3 separate regions of the Homo sapiens genome follow, and all the other regions are linked to region 2. Evidence: fine-mapped expression QTL. A gene starts in region 2. Each other region holds a variant in brackets. All regions are shown on one strand. Distances are between the middles of the regions.

Region 1 (6,106 bases), 29 kb after region 2:
ACCGCAGACATGTGCCACCGTGCCCAGCTAATTTTTAAAATTTTGGTAGAAACCAGGTCTCCCTGTGTTATCTAGGCTGATTTTGAACTCCTGGGCTCAAGCAGTCCTCCCATCTTGGCCTCCCAAAGTGCTGGGATTACTGCGTCTGGCCCAAGATAAGCCTTCCAGTTTTGGCAGAAGGCACAGGAAATGGGATTTTTTTTTTTTTTTTTTTTTTTTTTTTTTTTTTGAGACAGAGTCTCGCTGTGTCACCCAGGCTGGAGTGCAGTGGCACAGTCTCGGCTCACTGCAACCTCCGCCTCCTGGGTTCAAGCGATGCTCCTACCTCAGCCTCTCGAGTAGCTTGGATTACAGGCACCCCCCACCACGCCTGGCTAATTTTTTGTATTTTTAGTAGAGGCGGGGTTTCACCGCGTTAGCCAGGATGGGAGGAAATGGGATTCTTAACACCAAGAGAGATTGGGGCAATCTCTTGCTTGTGTGTATATGCACATACATATGTACATATATACATATATGTATATATACACAAATATATGTCTATATTTTCCCCCCTGTTTTTGCATGTCCCAGCCTCCAGACAATCTCACAGCAGCAGCAGCAATAGTGGAAGCAGTGGGGGCCTGCAGGTATCTAAAACTACAAGGAATAGGAACCTTCTTTTCCTGTTAGAGTTGCCGTGGAGTGAACCCCTATTACTTTTTTTCTCTGTTTCCTCCTGCCATACCCAGGCATAGTTGCAGAAAATACATAGCAGAGGGAGGTAACTAAAGCCCCAGCGTTAGGACTAGAGAACTGAATAGGGGAGCTCCAGGGAACTAGAAAGTATTAAGAAGATCCCAGAAAGGAACAAGTTCAAAAAAGCAACCTATGTTCAAGTTCAAAAAACCCAAAGTTGGCCCCGGCATGGTGGCTCATGTCTGTAATCCCAGCACTTTGGGAGGCCGAGGTGGGTGGATCACCTGAAGTCGGGAGTTCAAGACCAGCCTGACCAACATGGAGAAACCCCATCTCTACTAAAAATACAAAATTAGCCAAGCGTGGTGGTGCATGCCTCTAATCCCAGCTACTCGGGAGGCTGAGGCAGGAGAATTGCTTGAACCCGGGAGGCAGAGGTTGGGGTGAGCCGAGATCATGCCATTGCACTCCAACCTGGGCAACAAGAGTAAACTCCATCTCCAAAAAAAAAAAAAAACCCAAAGTTCAAAAAACTCAGTTTTTATGAACTCTTAGGCTCATTTTTGCCCGAATATATGTGGATCTGTCCCTAAATAACATATCAAAGACTTTAAGAACTAAAGTGTAAGTTCAGATTGGATTGGGTGGTGTACACACAGGACAAATCCAAATAACACTGCAAAGGCCTTGAAAACTGACACTGGAATCACAGTCCACACAAGCCTTGTTGGAACTTGCAGCCTGTACCCAACATGGTCAATACCTGTTAAAACAAAATATGAACCATCTCCATAGGATTTATTTTATTTTTTTATTTTATTTTATTTTATTTTTTCTGAGACAGAGTCTCGCTCTGTCGCCCAGGCTGGAGTGCAGTGGCGTGATCTTGGCTCACTGCAACCTCTGCCTCCTGGGTTCAGGGGATTCTCCTGCCTCAGCCTCCCTGAGTAGCTGGGACTACAGGTGCACGCCACTAAGCCTAACTAATTTTTTTTGTATTTTTAGTAGAGATGAGGTTTTACCGTGTTGGCCAGGTCTCAAACTCTTGACCTCAGGTGATCCACCTGCCTCGGACTCCCAAAGTGCTGGGATCACAGGCGTAAGCCACTGCGTCCAGCCAAGAGTTTTAATTAGATGTATCTTGGTATAATTTCTGAAGTTCAAAGAAACAGAAAACTCCATTGAAGTAACAACCTAGTAACTCAGGGTGTATCCTACACATGTTTGTGTTTGGTGCTGCCCCTACAGTTCTCTAATGTTCTGAATTAGTTACCAGCCTCAAGCTATCAGGGGATTTAATATAGAAATCTGGATTTCTAGTTTTCCTTGGAGAGCTGGAAAGCAGCACTGGACCTTCATTCTCACATGACAGCTGTCTCCTGGATTTAACAAGCACTTAACCCCTTTGAGAAGGGGTACAAGCTCTTTTACTAACCACTGTCCCCACTATTGCCTACTCTCACACAGACTCTGAGGGCACAGCCTGAGCTGCAATGTACATTTGCAGTATTACTTTTCTTAATCTCACCTTCATTACTGAAGGATATTTTTGGTAGATACAAAATTCTGGATTCACAACTCTTTTTTTCAGCACAATAAATTATTGTTCCAATTTTTTTCTGGCCTCCAGAGTTTATGAAGAGCAATCCAGTCATTCAAATCATTGTTCACCCAGAAGTAATATATATTTTTTTACAGTTCTTTCACTATTTATTTTGTCTTTGATTTTCAGCAGTTTGATTATGATGTGTCTGAGTATGGATTTCTTTGGGTTTATCCTATTTGGGGTGGCTGAGCTTCTCAAAATGGCTTTGCTTGTTTTATCTTTCACAAAATTTGTAAGTTTTCAGCCATTATTTCTTCAAATCTTTTTTGAGTCCTATACTATCTCTTCTCCTTCTGAAACCCTGATGACACAAATGTTAAATCTTTTCTTGTTCTACATTCCCAGAGGCTATGTTCTTTTTGCATTTTCCATCTTTTTTTCGCTGCTATTCATATTAGCTAATTTCTTTTGAACTATCTTCAAGTTTATTGACTTTATTACCTCCATTCTGCTGTTGAGCCTAGCCAGTGGTTTTTATTTCGGCTACTGCACTTTTCAGTTCTAAAACTTGTTTATTCTTCTTTATATATTCTATTCTTTTGCTGAAACTTTCTATTTTTATATTGGTTTGCAGAGTGTGCATGATTCCTTATTCAAGCATTTTTAAAATAGCTGCTTTAAAGTCATTATCTGATAATTCCAACATGAGTCACCTTTATTTTGGTGTCTGTTGTCTTTTGCCATGTAAGTTAAAATTTTCTTCATTCTTCATATGTTGAGTGATTTTGGATGGTATCCTAAGGCATTCTGAATATTATTCTATGAGACCCTAGGTCTTTCTTTAAATCCTATGAAAGCCAGGCACAGTGGCTTATGCCTGTAATCCCAGCACTTTGGGAGGTCAAGGTGGGCAGATCACTTGAGGTCAGGAGTTCGAGATCAGCCTGGCCAACGTGTTGAAACCTCGTCTTTACTAAAAATACAAAAAAAATAGCTGCGTATGATCTCAGCTACTTGGGAGGCTGAGAGGCAGGAGGATCTCTTGAACCCAGGAGGTGGAAGTTGCAGTGAGCTGAGATCACGCCACTGTACTCTCACCTGGGCAACAGAGCAAGGTTCTGTCTCAAAAAAAAAAAAAAAA[AG/G]TAATAGGTGGCCAGGCGCGGTGGCTCACGACTGTAATCCCAGCACTTTGGGAGGCCGAGGCGGGTGGATCACCTGAGGTTGGGGTTCGAGACCAGCCTGGCCAACATGGTGAAACCCCGTCTTTACTAAAAATACAAAAAATTAGCCGGGCGTGGTGGCGCATGCCTGTAATCCCAGCTACTCAGGAGGCTGAGGCAGGAGAATCGCTTGAACCTGGAAGGCAGAGGTTGTGGTGAGCCGAGATCAAGCCATTGCACTCCAGTCTGGGCAACAAGAGCAAAACTGTCTCAAAAAAAAAAAGTAATAGGCTGGGAGCGGTGGCTCACGCCTGTAATCCCAGCACTTTGGGAGGCCCAGGTGGGTGGATCACACGGTCAGGAGTTCAAGACCAGCCTGGCCAAGGTGATGAAACCCCATCTCTACTAAAAATACAAAAATTAGCCAGGCATGGTGTCTCATGCCTGTAATCCCAGTTACTTGGGAGGCTGAGGCAAACACAAAACAAAACAAAAACCTCTTTCCTCATATATATTGCTCAGCAAAAAGGGAACCATCTGAATACTAAGAGTTTTCATCAACCCTGGAAATTTGTTTTATTAGGGTTCTATATCATTGCCATATTTTCCTTCCAGAATTCATATTTGACATTCATTTTATTTCTTACATCAATTTTTCTTCCCTATGACTTATTATTTTCTGTCATCACTTTCATCCTTCTCTGAAAGTTTTTTAAACAATTCATTCCAGCTTTTTCCCTAGCTTTATTGAGGTATATTTGGCAAATAAAAATTATATATATTGGCCAGGCGTGGTGGTGCATGCCTGTAATCCCAGCTACCTGGGAGGCTGAGGCAAGAGAAGCACTTAAACCTAAGAGGCAGAGGTTGCAGTGAGCCAAGATCGCGCCATTGCACTCCAGCCTGGGCGACAAGAGTGAAAACTTTGTCTCAAAAAGAAAAATTATATGTATTTACAGTATACAGTTAGGTATTTTGATATATGTGTATACATTGTGAAATGATTACCATAATCAAGCCAATTAATGTATCTATCACATCACATAGTTACCAATTTGTATATGTGTGTATGTGGTAAGAACATTAAGATCTACTCCCATAATAAATTCCAAGTATACAATACAGTATTATAAACTATAGTTACTATGGTATACGTTCTGTACTGGTATTACCATTAATGGTATGTACTTACATGGCAGTACATACTATTAATATATAATGCTGTATATTAGATCTCCAGAAATTTTTTATTCTGAGTAACTAGAACTTTGTACCCTTTGACCAATATCTTCTTTCCTCCGTCCCCCAACCCCTGGTGACCTCCATTCTACTCTCTTCTTCTATGAGTTCAACGTTTTAGAGTTCATATATAAGTGAGATCACTGCAGTATCTGTCTTTCTGTGCCTGGCTTATTTCACATATGTCCTCCAGCTTCATCTATGTTGTTGAAAATAACAGGATTTTCTTCATTTTTAAGTCTTAATATTCCAGTGTTTGTGTATTTGTATATATACACACACATTCCATTATGTGTGTGTATATGTGTATGTGTGTGTGTATACATATATATGCCCACACATCACATTTTCTTTATCAATTTATCCATTGATTCCATATCTTGGCTATCATGAATGATGCTGCAATGAACATAAGAATGCAGATTTTTTTTCCCCCATACTGATTTGATTTCATTTGGATATATACCCAGAAGTAAGCTTGCTGAGTTATAGGGTAGTTTTGAGAAACCTCCATGCTGTTTTCCATAATGGCTGTTTCAATTTATGCCACCAACAGTGTCCAAGGATTCCCTTTTTGCCACATCCTTTCCAACACTTGTTATTTTTTGTCCTTTTGATAATAGCAGTTCTGACAGGTGTGAGGGGATTTTTGTTTGTTTGTTTATTTTTTTGAGACGGAGTCTCACTCTTGTTGCCCAGGCTGGAGTGCAGTGGTGCAATCTCAGCTCACTGCAACCTCCGCCTCCGGGGTTCAAGCGATTCTCCCACTTCAGCCTCCCAAGTAGCTGAGATTACAAGTGCCCTCCACTAAGCCCACATAATTTTTGTATTTTAGTAGAGATGGGATTTCATCATGTTGGTCAGGCTGGTGTCGAACTCCTGACCTCAAGTGATCCACCCACCTCGGCCTCCCAAAGTGCTGGGATTACAGGCCTGAGCCACAGTAACCAGCAATGAGGTGATATTTCATTGTGGTTTCAATTTCCATTTTCCTGATGATTAGTAATGTTGAGTGTTTTTTCATATACCTATTGGCTGTTTCTATGTCTTCTTTTGAGAAATGCCCATTTTTTAATTGGGTTATTTGTTTTCTTGTTACTGAGTTGAGTTCCTTATACATTTTGGATATTAGCATCTTACCAGATACAAGGTTTGAAAATATTTTATCCCACTCTGTGGATAGTCTCTTCACTCTGTTGTTTCCTTTGCTGTGCAGAAGCTTTTGAGTTTGATGTAATCATATTTTTCTATTTTTTGCTTTTCTTTTCTGTGTTTTTAGTTTTGTGTCTCATGTTTAAGTCTTTAATCCATTTTGAGTTGACTTTCGTATATGTATGCAATAGGAATTCAATTTCATTCTTTTGCATGTGGCTATCCAGTTTCTCATCACCATTTATTGAACTGTCTTTTCCCCATTGTGTGTTCTTGGCATCTTTATTGAAAATCCAATGACCATAAATGCATGGGTTCTGTATGGGTTCTT
Region 2 (6,106 bases):
CTTCGGCAGTGTTTGTGTCCCTGGGTACTTAAGATTAGGGAGTGGTGATGACTCTTAACGAGCATGCTGCCTTCAAGCATCTGTTTAACAAAGCACATCTTGCACCGCCCTTAATCCATTTAACCCTGAGTGGACACAGCACATGTTTCAGAGAGCACAGGGTTGGGGGTAAGGTCACAGATCAACAGGATCCCAAGGCAGAAGAATTTTTCTTAGTACAGAACAAAATGAAAAGACTCCCATATCTACGTCTTTCTACACAGACACGGCAACCATCCGATTTCTCAATCTTTTCCCCACCTTTCCCGCCTTTCTATTCCACAACACCGCCATTGTCATCATGGCCCGTTCTCAATGAGCTGTTGGGTACACCTCCCAGATGGGGTCGTGGCCAGGCAGAGGGGCTCCTCACTTCCCAGTAGGGGCGGCCGGGCAGAGGCGCCCCTCACCTCCCGGACGGAGAGGCTGGCCGGGCGGGGGGCTGACCCCCCCCCACCTCCCTCCCGGACGGGGCGGCTGGCCGGGCAGAGGGGCTCCTCAATTCCCAGTAGGGGTGGCCAGGCAGAGGCGCCCCTCGCCTCCCGGACGGGGCGGCTGGCCGGGCGGGGGACTGACCCCCCCACCTCCCTCCCGAACGGGGCGGCTGGCCGGGCGGGGGGCTGACCCCCCCACCTCCCTCCCGGACGGGGCGGCTGGCCTGGCGGGGGTGACCCCCACCTCCCTCCCGGATGGGGTGGCTGCCGGGCGGAGACGCTCCTCACTTCCCAGACGGGGTGGCTGCCGGACGGAGGGGCTCCTCACTTCTCAGACGGGGCGGCTGCCGGGCGGAGGGGCTCCTCACTTCTCAGACGGGGCGGTTGCCAGGCAGAGGGTCTCACTTCTCAGACGGGGCGGCCGGGCAGAGACGCTCCTCACCTCCCAGACGGGGTCGCGGCCAGGCAGAGGCGTTCCTCACATCCCAGACGGGGCGGCGGGGCAGAGGCGCTCCCCACATCCCAGACGATGGGCGGCCTGGCAGAGACGCTCCTCACTTTCCAGACTGGGCAGCCAGGCAGAGGGGCTCCTCACATCCCAGACGATGGGCGGCCAGGCAGAGAAGCTCCTCACTTCCCAGATGGGGTGGCGGCGGGGCAGAGGCTGCAATCTCGGCTCTTTGGGGGGCCAAAGCAGGCGGCTGGGAGGAGGTTGTAGCGAGCCGAGATCACGCCACTGCACTCCAGCCTGGGCACCATTGAGCACTGAGTGAACAAGACTCCGTCTGCAATCCCGGCACCTCGGGAGGCCGAGGCTGGCGGACCACTCGCGGTTAGGAGCTGGAGACCAGCCCGGCCAACACAGCGAAACCCTGTGTTTGGTGGAGACCAAAAAAATACGAAAACCAGTCAGGCGTGGCGGCGCGCGCCTGCAATCGCAGGCACTCGGCAGGCTGAGGCAGGAGAATCAGGCAGGGAGGTTGCAGTGAGCCGAGAGGGCAGCAGTACAGTCCAGCTTTGGCTCGGCATCAGAGGGAGACCGTGGAAAGAGAGGGAGAGGGAGACCGTGGGGAGAGCATATATCCTTATTATTAAACTATGCATGACTGTGTATACAATACCTTTATAGGTCAAAAGCAGTCAAATACTGGCCATGAGATACACTTAGTCCAAGTACACAAATAATTGCAGAAGGAGAAAGTGAAACTCCTCTTACTTCCTGCCCCACTCATTTATCACAAAGCACACAGAAGTCAGAATAACACCTGCCCTTTGCAATTTCAGACTCCTCTCTTTCTGCCTCTCCAAACCTGTCCCACGTTTGGCGATTCCTTTCCCTTCGACCTCCCCCCATCAGGTCGCAGGTTCCTGGTCTACACCCCTTCTGCGTCCCCAACCACTTCTGAGTCTCACAACCTCTGGTCCCATAACCCCTCTGCACTAAGGAGCAATAAACAAAATTCACGCCCGAACAAAGAGGCCAAAACAGCAACCCAGGATGTTTGCGCCTGCGCACTCTGGGCGCACAGTACTCAGGCCGGCAGCCCAGCACCGGCTTATCTGTGAGAGCAATTAAGATGACTTTCGGAGGGTCCAACCGCCTTCCCAGCTCCGAACTACATCTCCCAGAAGGCTCAGTTGTGCGATTATCTTTCCATGCAGACTTGTCCTCTTTCTGAGGCTGTCCAGCGCCTGGGGGCAGTAGGACGGGTCCGGGAACTAAGCCCATCTCAAACACGTCGGAGTGGCTTTCTTTGGGGGCCAAGGCCCGAGCCTGAGGCGGGACTCCATGAGGCCTCTGGGGCGCGAGCGGTTTGACTAGGGGGGGCGATCCTTTCGGCGGGGCTGACGCAAGGCGCGGACAGGAATTCTGACGATCGGGAACCATCTTGTCCGGCCTTGATACGTCTCTGACTACGCTTCCCAGAGGTCTCCTCGGCAAGACTGTACTTCTCGCGGTAATTCAGCTTCCAACTCACGCGCTGGCGGGACCCTCAGGGCTTTACCAGCAACTACCCCAGTGCCGGGGAGGGTTCTGCTGCTTCGAAAGCTGGTAAGGCCTGAGGTGAGAAACCCGGGAGAGGGCGGGGCCGGGGGCCAAGCCTCGGCTTTGTGCGGCGGTGGAGGTGAGATTGAAAGCGTGCGCTTGCGTCTGTGTGGAGGTGTGTGGTGAATGATCGCGCGATTGTGACAGGCTGCCCTTGTGATGAGTGTGTTTCCAACGCTCACACCGTGTGCAGCACGGCCTCGGAGACTGTGGCTGCTGGTGTGTGTGTGAGAGGGAGCAGGACCACGTGCGGCATTGTGTGTGCGGCTGTGGGGAGCTTGTGCCTGGTTGAGTGTTACTGCGTTTGTCCCCGTAGTGGTGTGCGACTATATGCTGTGTGACTGTGTGCGGCAGAGTTCAGGTGGGGATACCTGCGAGTAACTGCATGTTTCTATCTGTGTGTGTGGCTGTGGTTAATGTGTGATCGTGACTGTGACCCGGTACAGGTGTGCGCCGACTGTGACAATGTGGTTGTGACTGTGACTGCCTCCTCGGTAAGCGTGCACTTGTGCTTATGTGACCGATAGAGGCCCTGCGTGTGCGACCCTGTTGCTTTGGGCGTGGATTGTCTGTAGCTGAATGTCCCCATGGTGGGAGTGTGATCAGGTTTGTGTGGCAGGGTAAGTCACACAGTGTGAGGTTTTATCACTTACGTATACTTCTCTAGGCATTATACTCCAGTTTTTCCCCGTTTTAAAACTTTATATGAATGTTGTCATACTGTCTTTGGTTTATTTTTACAATTCTGTGAATCATCCCTATTAGATAAAATCGCGGTTAATTCAATTTCTTTGCTATATTCTCCCTTCTGAAGTATACCACAATTATTCATCCTTTCTAGTAATGATGCCCTATTAGTTATTTATAGCTTTTCATTTTATAAACAACACAGCCACATTCTTTCACATGGGGTACACATGCTTGAGTTTATTTACCAGCAGAATTGCCGGTTCATATATCTTCCACTTTACTAAACAGTGTCAAAATATATACCCGAGTGGCTGCACAAATTTGTACTTGAACAGCAATGTTTGAAATATCTTATTGCTCCATATCCCTACCAAAGCATAGTTCCAAGAGTTAAAAAAATTTTTGTAGGCCAAGTGTGGAGGCTCATGCGTGTAATCCCAGCACTTTGCCAGGCCAAGGTGAGAGGATCACTTGAGGCCAGGAGCTGGAGACCAGCCTGGGCAACATAGTGAGACCCTAACTCTACCATAAATACATACATACATAAAAAATTAGCCGGGCATGGTGGCTGGCACCTATAAGTCCTAGCTACTCAGGAGGTTGAGATGAGAGGATCGCTTGAGCCCAGTGCTTTGCAGCTGCAGGAAGCCATGATCATACCACTGCCCTTCAGCCTGGGCAACAGAGCAGGAGGCTGTCAATAGATACATAGAGCCTATATAAAGTGTGCAAATCTTAAGTGTACAGCTGTGTAACACTCTTAGATCTATACAAAGAACTTTGCCAGGACCTGAGATGCTTCCCTCATACCACTTCTCAGTAATTTCTCCCCCACACAATCTATTCAGAATTCTATCATTAACTAGTTTTACCCATTCTTTTTTTTTTTTTTTTTTTTTTTTTTGAGACAGAGTCTTGCTCTTGTCACCCAGGCTGGAGTGCAGTGATGCAATCTTGGCTCACTGCAACCTCCGCCTCCTGGGTTCAAACGATTCTCCTGCCTCAGCCTCCTGAGTAGCTGGGATTACAGGCACCCATCACACCCGGCTAATTTTTGTATTTTTAGTAGAGACAGGGTTTCCCCATGTTGGCAAAGCTAGTCCTGACCTCAGGTGATCCGCCCACCTTGGCCTCCCAAAGTGCTGGGATTACAGGCATGAGCCAGTGCATCTGGCTGTCTTACACATTCTTGAACTTCATGTATATATGCAATTATGCAGCATGTACTGTTTTATGCCAGGCTTCTTTTGTTATATATTATGTTTGTGAAATTCATTCATGTTGTTCAGTGTAATTGTACTTAGCTCTCACTATACTGGGGATATATTGTAGTATATTAGTCGATTACATTGTTGATGGATATTTGGGTAGCTTCCAATTTGGGGCTGTTACAAATGATGCTGCAGCTGTGAACACTCTGCTGTGTTTTTGGTGAACACATGAAGGCTTTTCTCCCGGGTTAATACTTAGGAGTGGCATTGCTAGATCATAGGGTAGGCTAATGTTTAATAGATACTACGAAGCTCTCATGTGGTTGTTCCAGTTTACACTCCATCCAGCAATGTATGAGAGTTCCAGTTGCTTCATATCCTCTCCGTAATTTGGTATGGTTAGTCTTTTAACTATTTTATTGGTTGTGTGGTGCAGTTTCATCATAGGTTTTTGTTTTGGTTTGTTTTGTCTTGTTTTGGTTTGTTTTTTTTTTTTTTTTTGAGACGGAGTCTCGCTCTGTGGCCCAGGCGGGAGTGCAGTGGCGCAATCTCGGCTCACTGCAAGCTCCGCCTCCCGGGTTCACGCCATTCTCCTGCCTCAGCCTCCCGAGTAGCTGGGATTACAGGTGCGTGCCACCACACCCAGCTAATTTTTGTATTTTTAGTGGAGACAGAGTTTCACCATGTGAAACTCCCGCCCGCCTCAGCCTCCCAAAATCCTGGGATTATAAGTGTGAGCCACTGCACCCAGCCTCATCATAGTTTTAATTTGTATTTCCTTGATGTGAAATGATGTTCAGCACCTTTTTGTATGTTTACTGGCCATTTGTATATCTTCTTTTTTGTGTCCATTTTCCCCTTCGTAAATTTTTTAAAAATGTTCTTTTCTTTCTTTCTTTCATTTTTTTTTTTTTTTTTTGAGACAGAGTTTCGCTCTTGCTGCCCAGGCTGGAGTGCAATGGCATGATCTCAGCTCACTGCAACCTCCACCTCCCAGGTTCAAGCAATCCTCCTGCCTCAGCCTCCCATGTAGCCAGGATTACAGGCTTGCGCCACCACGGCCAGCTAATTTTGTATTTTTAGTAGACACAGGGTTTCACAATATTGGTCAGGCTGGTCTCAAACTCCTGATCTCAGGTGATCCAACTGCCTTGTCCTCCCAAAGTGCTGGGATTACAGGTGTGAGCCACTATGCCTGGCCTAAAATTTTATTTTCATGTTGTGAACATAGTATAAGGAATTTGCAGATACTCTGCAGGTGCCCACAGTGCAATGATGAAAACCAGGAAATTTATGCTGATAGAAGACTTTTAATTAAGTTAGAGCCCTTTTTCAAATTTTGCTAAATTTTCTTACTGTTTCAGGATCCAATCCAAGGTCCTGCATTGAATTGTATTGTTTCATTAGTCTCCTTCCATCTTTGAGTGTTCTTTAATCCTTTTTATCTTTTAGGACTTTGACACTTTTGAAGAGTACTGGCCAGTTATTTTGTAAAATATCTTTTTCTTTTCTTTTCTCTTTCTCTCTCTGTCTTATTCTTTGAGACGGAGTCTCTGTCACCCAGGCTGGAGTGTAATGGCACAATCTTGGCTCACCACAACCTCCACCTCCTGGGTTCCAGCGATATTCTTGCCTCAGCCTCCCGAGCAGCTGGGACTATAGGAGCGCACCACCACGCCCAGCTA
Region 3 (6,106 bases), 40 kb after region 2:
ATTGAGGTTTCATAATTTGGTTATGCCTCTCAGCTAGTTAAAAAGTCTGGAATTCAGACCTCTTTTACAACCCTAAAGCCTTCAGTTTTCTCAACCACCTTGCTATACTCATTTTTTCTTTTCATCATATCTCATTCCGTAGTCATTTCTTTCTCTATGGGTAACTGATAAGAATACTAGATGAGATCCTGTCCCTCTGTAACCAGACCAAATTATTTCTTGTAAAAATTTATTTGTATTACATGTATATTATAATAGTTTACAAAGCTGTACCTTCCTTACCCCTCCATTTCCTTGTCTAAGAGTCAGTGACTTTCAAGTCTTCTAACTATTCTCCCTTTTTTTTTTTTAACGAGTCAAGGGGTCGGGCCTAATGTCCCCATTTTTGTATGGAAATTCTTTTTTTTGTTGTTTGTTTGTTTTTTTTGAGATGGAGTCTCGCTCTGTTCCCTAGGCTGGAGTGCAGTGGTGTGATCTTGGCTCACTGCAATCTCCACCTCCTGGGTTCAAGCAATTCTTCTGCCTCAGCCTCCTGAGTAGCTGGGATTACAGTGCATGTGCTACCACACCCGGCTAATTTTTGTATTTTTAGTAGAGATAGGGTTTCACCATGTTGGTCAGGCTGGTCTCAAACTCCTGACCTCGTGATCGGCCCGCCTCGGCCCCGCAGAGTGCTGGGATTACAGGCGTGAGCCACTGTGCCTGGCAGAAATTCTTCCATAGTATTTACAAACATTAATCCCAATCCTCACAACAGTTGTAAGGGCTATCATTCCTATTGTATTAGACAGAGAACTGCAGGTTTGGAAGGTTGAACTAATTTGCCCAAGAAAACAAAGCTTATAATTATTCAAGTTTGAGTATAAAACGCATGTAACTGAATCTAGTATCTCTGATCTGTCAGTACCATACACTGCCTTCCATTTTACTCTCTCCCCTTCTCTTGAACCTACAAATGTCTTTTCTGCCAGTCAGTCATTACTACTATAGTGATCATGTACTTGTTAAGTCCCCTCTTCTCTTTAACAAAGGTCAGCATCTCAGAATTACACGACAAACACTATTTTCATCAAACCCCAAACATATACCATATCTGTCCACAAATGAGTCCTATCTACCACTCATACTATGTTCATTCCACACTTGACTTTTCTTAAGCTAGGCTTTTTTCTGGATTGTCACCCTCTAGTTCCTTATCATTTTTTAAAGTGCTCTGGCCCTCCTGTTACAGAATCCAGACCAGGGCTATCCAAGAGAACATTCAGTGGTGATGGAAATGTTTTATATTTGTGATATTTCGTACAGACTTCCAGTACAAAAGCTACCAGCCACATTTGGCTGTTGAACATTGGAAATGTGAATAATGTGACTGAGAAACTGAATTTTCAAATTCAGCTGTTTATTTCAAAATGAAATGCACATTTTACTTAAATTATTTGAAATTTTAAAAGCCACATGTAGCTAGCGGCTACTGTATTAGACGATGCATATCTAACCAGGGGCTGGCAAACTTTTTCTTGAAAGGCAAATAGTAAGTATTTTAGGTTTGCAGTTCACACATTCTCTATCATAACTACTCACTTCTGCCCTTTTAGCGCAAAAGCATCCATAGACAATACGTAACAAGTATGGCTAATAAAACTTCATTTATAAAAATGGGTGCAGGGCCATAGGCCATAGTTTACTGATCTCTGGGAATTTTCCATTAGGCATATTCATTTCATCCGACAATAGCCCTGTTAACAGTGTGATCATTCCTTTATTTATTTATTTATTTATTTATCTATCTATTGAGACAGTGACTCACTCTGTTGCCCAGGCTGGAGTGCAGTGGCAATCTCGGCTCACTGCAACCTCTGCCTCCCGGGTTCAAGCAATTCTCGTGCCTCGGCCTCCCCAGTAGCTGGGATTACAGGCACACACCACCATGCCCCACTAGATTTTTATATTTTTAGTAGAGACAGGTTTCACCATGTTAGCCAGGCTGATCTCAAACTCCTGACCAAGTGATCTGCCTGCCTCACCCGCCCAAGGTGCTGGGATTACAGATGTGAGCCACCATGCCTGGCCATTTCCCTTATTTTATAATTCATACTATGAGATGCTATTATATGTCTGTGTGTATATATGCAATGAGATATTTTGTGTGTGTATGATTAGAGTCATCCTTTAACAAGGGAGATAGGACTAAAGCATGTGTATATTTAGCAGGCTTCCCAAAGTAATTCTGATCTATAGCAATGTTTGGGAACCAGTGACTTACTTTGTTTTCCTAATCACTACCCTCATCTTATTATGTAACCTGTCTTCTAACTCTCTTTTTTCCTCATCCATTTGTAAAAAAAATTCGGTTAAATTCTCCCATATTGATTGAAGTTTTGTTTCTCCCAAACAAGAAAAATGTGAGTGATTACTTTCATATTTTCTTTCAGTCCTGGAATCAAGATGTGAGACCAAGAAATTATTTCTGAAGAAAGAAATTTATGAAATAGAATCAACCCAGTGGGAAATAATGGAAAAACTCACAAGACGTGATTTTCAGTGCTCCAGTTTCAGAGATGATTGGGAATGTAAT[C/A]GGCAGTTTAAGAAAGAACTCGGCTCTCAGGGGGGACATTTCAATCAATTGGTATTCACTCATGAAGATCTGCCCACTTTGAGTCACCATCCATCCTTCACATTACAGCAAATCATTAACAGTAAAAAGAAATTCTGTGCATCTAAAGAATATAGGAAAACCTTTAGACATGGCTCACAGTTTGCTACACATGAGATAATTCATACCATTGAGAAGCCTTATGAATGTAAGGAATGTGGAAAGTCCTTTAGACATCCCTCAAGACTCACTCATCATCAGAAAATTCATACTGGCAAGAAACCCTTTGAATGTAAGGAATGTGGAAAAACCTTTATTTGTGGCTCAGACCTTACTCGACATCACAGAATTCACACTGGTGAGAAACCCTATGAATGTAAGGAATGTGGGAAAGCCTTTAGTAGTGGTTCAAACTTCACTCGACATCAGAGAATTCACACAGGTGAGAAGCCTTATGAATGCAAAGAATGCGGGAAGGCCTTTAGTAGTGGCTCAAACTTTACTCAACATCAGAGAATTCATACTGGGGAAAAACCCTATGAATGTAAGGAATGTGGCAATGCCTTTAGTCAGAGCTCACAACTTATTAAACATCAAAGAATCCATACAGGTGAGAAACCTTACGAATGTAAGGAATGTGAAAAGGCTTTTCGTTCTGGCTCAGACCTTACTAGACATCAGAGAATTCATACTGGGGAGAAACCCTATGAATGTAAGATATGTGGGAAGGCTTATTCTCAGAGTTCACAGCTTATTAGTCATCATAGAATTCATACTAGTGAGAAACCCTATGAATATAGGGAATGTGGAAAGAACTTTAATTATGACCCACAACTTATTCAGCATCAAAATTTGTACTGGTGATGAAACAGAATATATGAAATGTGTAGGGAGGCTTTTAATTATGGCTCAAAACAGAATTTATCTTGTTAATAATTCCTCTAGATAGAATAATGTAGAAACATTTTATTTGTGGACTACAGCTTATTCAGCCTGGGAAAAATAATGTTGGAGAAATACTCTATGAATAGAATATACTTTGGAAGCCCTTAACTAAACGCTTACTTCTCTTGACATCAGATAATTCAGTCTAGCAATATGATAGATAATTCAGTCTGTCATACTGAAAATGACAGCACTTTTAACACCTTTCTAACCTTCTTAACGTCAGAGAATTTTTGTAGAAATGTAGTCCTGTGATTGTCATTTTTTCCCCTAATTTCTCTAATTGTTACATTCTTAGTATTTTAATCCATATTAAATTTATATGGCTATAAATTTCATCTGTTTACATCCTGATTTGTATACTATTTTAAAAATACCTTTAGTACCTGGGAGAAGTGACCTCTTTATTTTTGAAGATGGCTTATTCTTTTTGTTCTTTATAACATTAAGGCTTTCTTATTGTAAAAATGTTCATGAACGACATTTTACTCAATAGAGATTCTTCATTATCTTCATGGTGTTTTGTTGTGTTACTGTAATATCACTTATGAAATCCTATTGGTGGATATCGTAGTCTCCTCTAGATATTTTGCCATAATACATGCCAAAATACAAGTCCCTGCTGGACATTCTCCCTAAGCACATCTTTGTATCATATCTTTTAATTGCAGAAGTAATGTGTGAATATATTTTCCTTATAAAAGATGCAAACATTACAAAAAGGCAAATGTACCCTTTGACCATATCCCAAAGGATAGTCTTTATCAGTTCATTATTTATTGCTGATCATTTTTCTGTTCATATATACATGCGTGTCTCAGTAAAAATTATAAAATGGGGGATAATTATAATACCTACCTCATAATGCTTTGTGAGGATTAAATGAATTAAGATCGATAAAGTGCTTAGAATTGTGCCTGACATGATAAATACATACTCACTGAATGTTAGTCATCGTTATTATATTCATCATCATCAGTATTATTATTTGTAGAAAGGCTTTTTAACTTCTGCAGAACTTAGTCACCATTAGGCAGGGTGTTTGACTGAAGAAAGACCCTTTGAAGGTAACAAGTTAAGAAAATTTCCCATCATCATGTACTTACTATTGAACATGAAATAATCCTAGGTGTTGGGGGGGAAAGTACTGTGAATAATGTGTGTGAAGGACTTTATTCCGACTAATACTCTTTTTGTCGCATTATATACCCAGTAAAAAAGAAAAGAGAACATAAGCAAAATATTGGTGCACTAATGAGGAAAAAAAGTATGAAAAGAGAAACAGCATCATATTTAAAAAATGGACAGAGATAGAAACATAGTTACAGATTTAAAAGGTTCTGTTGAATATTATGCTTTTTTCTAATATGTTTGAAAATTTAAACAAAATGGTTTTTAAGGAAAATATACATCAATATTGACTCCAAGAAAATTAGGACTCTTCAAAGACTCTCATAAACACAGAGAACAGGGAAAAATTAGCATGTGATCAGTTAACTATTACTAATGAAGCACCAAATCCAGTTTCTTTCTAAGGAAAACTTTATCAAATGTTCAAGGAACTATTTCAGTTATATAGAAGTACACATCTTGGCTCACGCCTGTAATCCCAGCACTTTGGGAGGCTGAGATGGAAGGATCATTTGAGGCCAGGAGCTTGAGACCAGCCTGGCCAACATGTTGAAACCCCATTTTTACTCAAAAATACAAAACTTAGCCAGGCATGGTGGCACATGCCTGTAATCCCAGCTACTGGGGAGGCTGAGGCAGGAGAATCACTTGAATGCAGGAGGTGGAGGTTGCAGTGAGCCAAGATCACGCCATGGCACTTCAGCCTGAGCGACAGAATGAGACTATTAAAAAAAAAAAAAAAAAGTCCACAGTGTAGCTTTGTTTGGGGTTAAGTTAGTGTTTTGAAATGGGCCTTCCCTGTGCTCAAAACATGCTCAGCAAGCAGCTCCCCACGCTGGACAGATCGCATATGTGGAAGGATGAAGTTTATGTCTGTAGAACTGTTATTTTATGCCCCACTTCCTTTTTTCTTAGATCCTGTGTAGACGGGTCTCTCTGAACATTGTGTTACTTTACTTTACTGGCATAAGGAAGTAAAATATTTCATAATAAATTTGAGAAAAGTAGAGTGAGCAAAAATACCTGCAAATGAGAGAATTACTAAAAATGGACTGTTGTAATGTTTTGCGTTATCAAAATGAAAACTGCCAAATGAGATTTTGTTTACTTTCTTTTCTTGTGTGCTTATGTCTTTTATAAAGTTCTTCATCTAAAATTATAGAGATAGTGCATTTGCACCCAAATTAATGAAACAATACCATTAAAGAGAAAGAAAAGGGGCTGGGCACAGTGGCTTACGCCTGTAATCCCAGTGCTTTGGGAGGCCAAGGCAGGGGGCAGCCTGGCCAATATAGTGAAACCCCATCTCTACTAAAAATACAAAAATTAGCTGGGCGTGGTGGCATGTGCCTGTAGTCCCAGCTGCTCGGAAGGCTGAGGCAGGAGAATCGCTTGAACCCGGGAGGCGGAGGTTGCAGTGAGCTGAGATCCTGACTG

Which allele goes with the higher level. Positions count from the first base shown, and alleles are read on the strand shown. Sizes are in standard deviations (SD) of each study's normalised expression. Not every link is listed here.
For the expression in Th1/17 cells of the gene that starts at base 2,451 in region 2, G is the high allele of the variant in region 1 and AG is the other (large effect, 1.0 SD a copy in Schmiedel 2018).

What was found. PIP is the estimated chance that this variant, and not a neighbour inherited with it, causes the effect.
Region 1: its variant is fine-mapped to the expression of ZNF566 in Th1/17 cells (Schmiedel 2018, PIP 0.95).
Region 3: its variant is fine-mapped to the expression of ZNF566 in whole blood (INTERVAL, PIP above 0.99).

What each region holds. Positions count from the first base shown.
Region 1 is chr19:36,457,080-36,463,185 of GRCh38, reverse strand. All of the region lies in intron 4 of ZNF566 (zinc finger protein 566), which reads left to right. Among named protein-coding and RNA genes, the nearest start is that of ZNF566, 29 kb to the left of the region's middle. The variant AG/G (reference allele first, on the strand shown) is at 3,366.
Region 2 is chr19:36,485,906-36,492,011 of GRCh38, reverse strand. It overlaps ZNF566 (zinc finger protein 566), which reads left to right and starts at 2,451. Exons shown (of 5, transcript NM_001145344.1): 1 at 2,451-2,526. It overlaps ZNF566-AS1 (ZNF566 antisense RNA 1), which reads right to left and starts at 2,385. Exons shown (of 1, transcript NR_036504.1): 1 at 972-2,385. RefSeq lists enhancers at 1,582-2,467, 1,962-2,521, 3,082-3,161, 2,468-3,355.
Region 3 is chr19:36,446,328-36,452,433 of GRCh38, reverse strand. It overlaps ZNF566 (zinc finger protein 566), which reads left to right. Exons shown (of 5, transcript NM_001145344.1): 5 at 2,433-6,106. The coding sequence ends at 3,457. Among named protein-coding and RNA genes, the nearest start is that of ZFP82, 31 kb to the right of the region's middle. RefSeq lists an enhancer at 2,184-3,383. The variant C/A (reference allele first, on the strand shown) is at 2,576.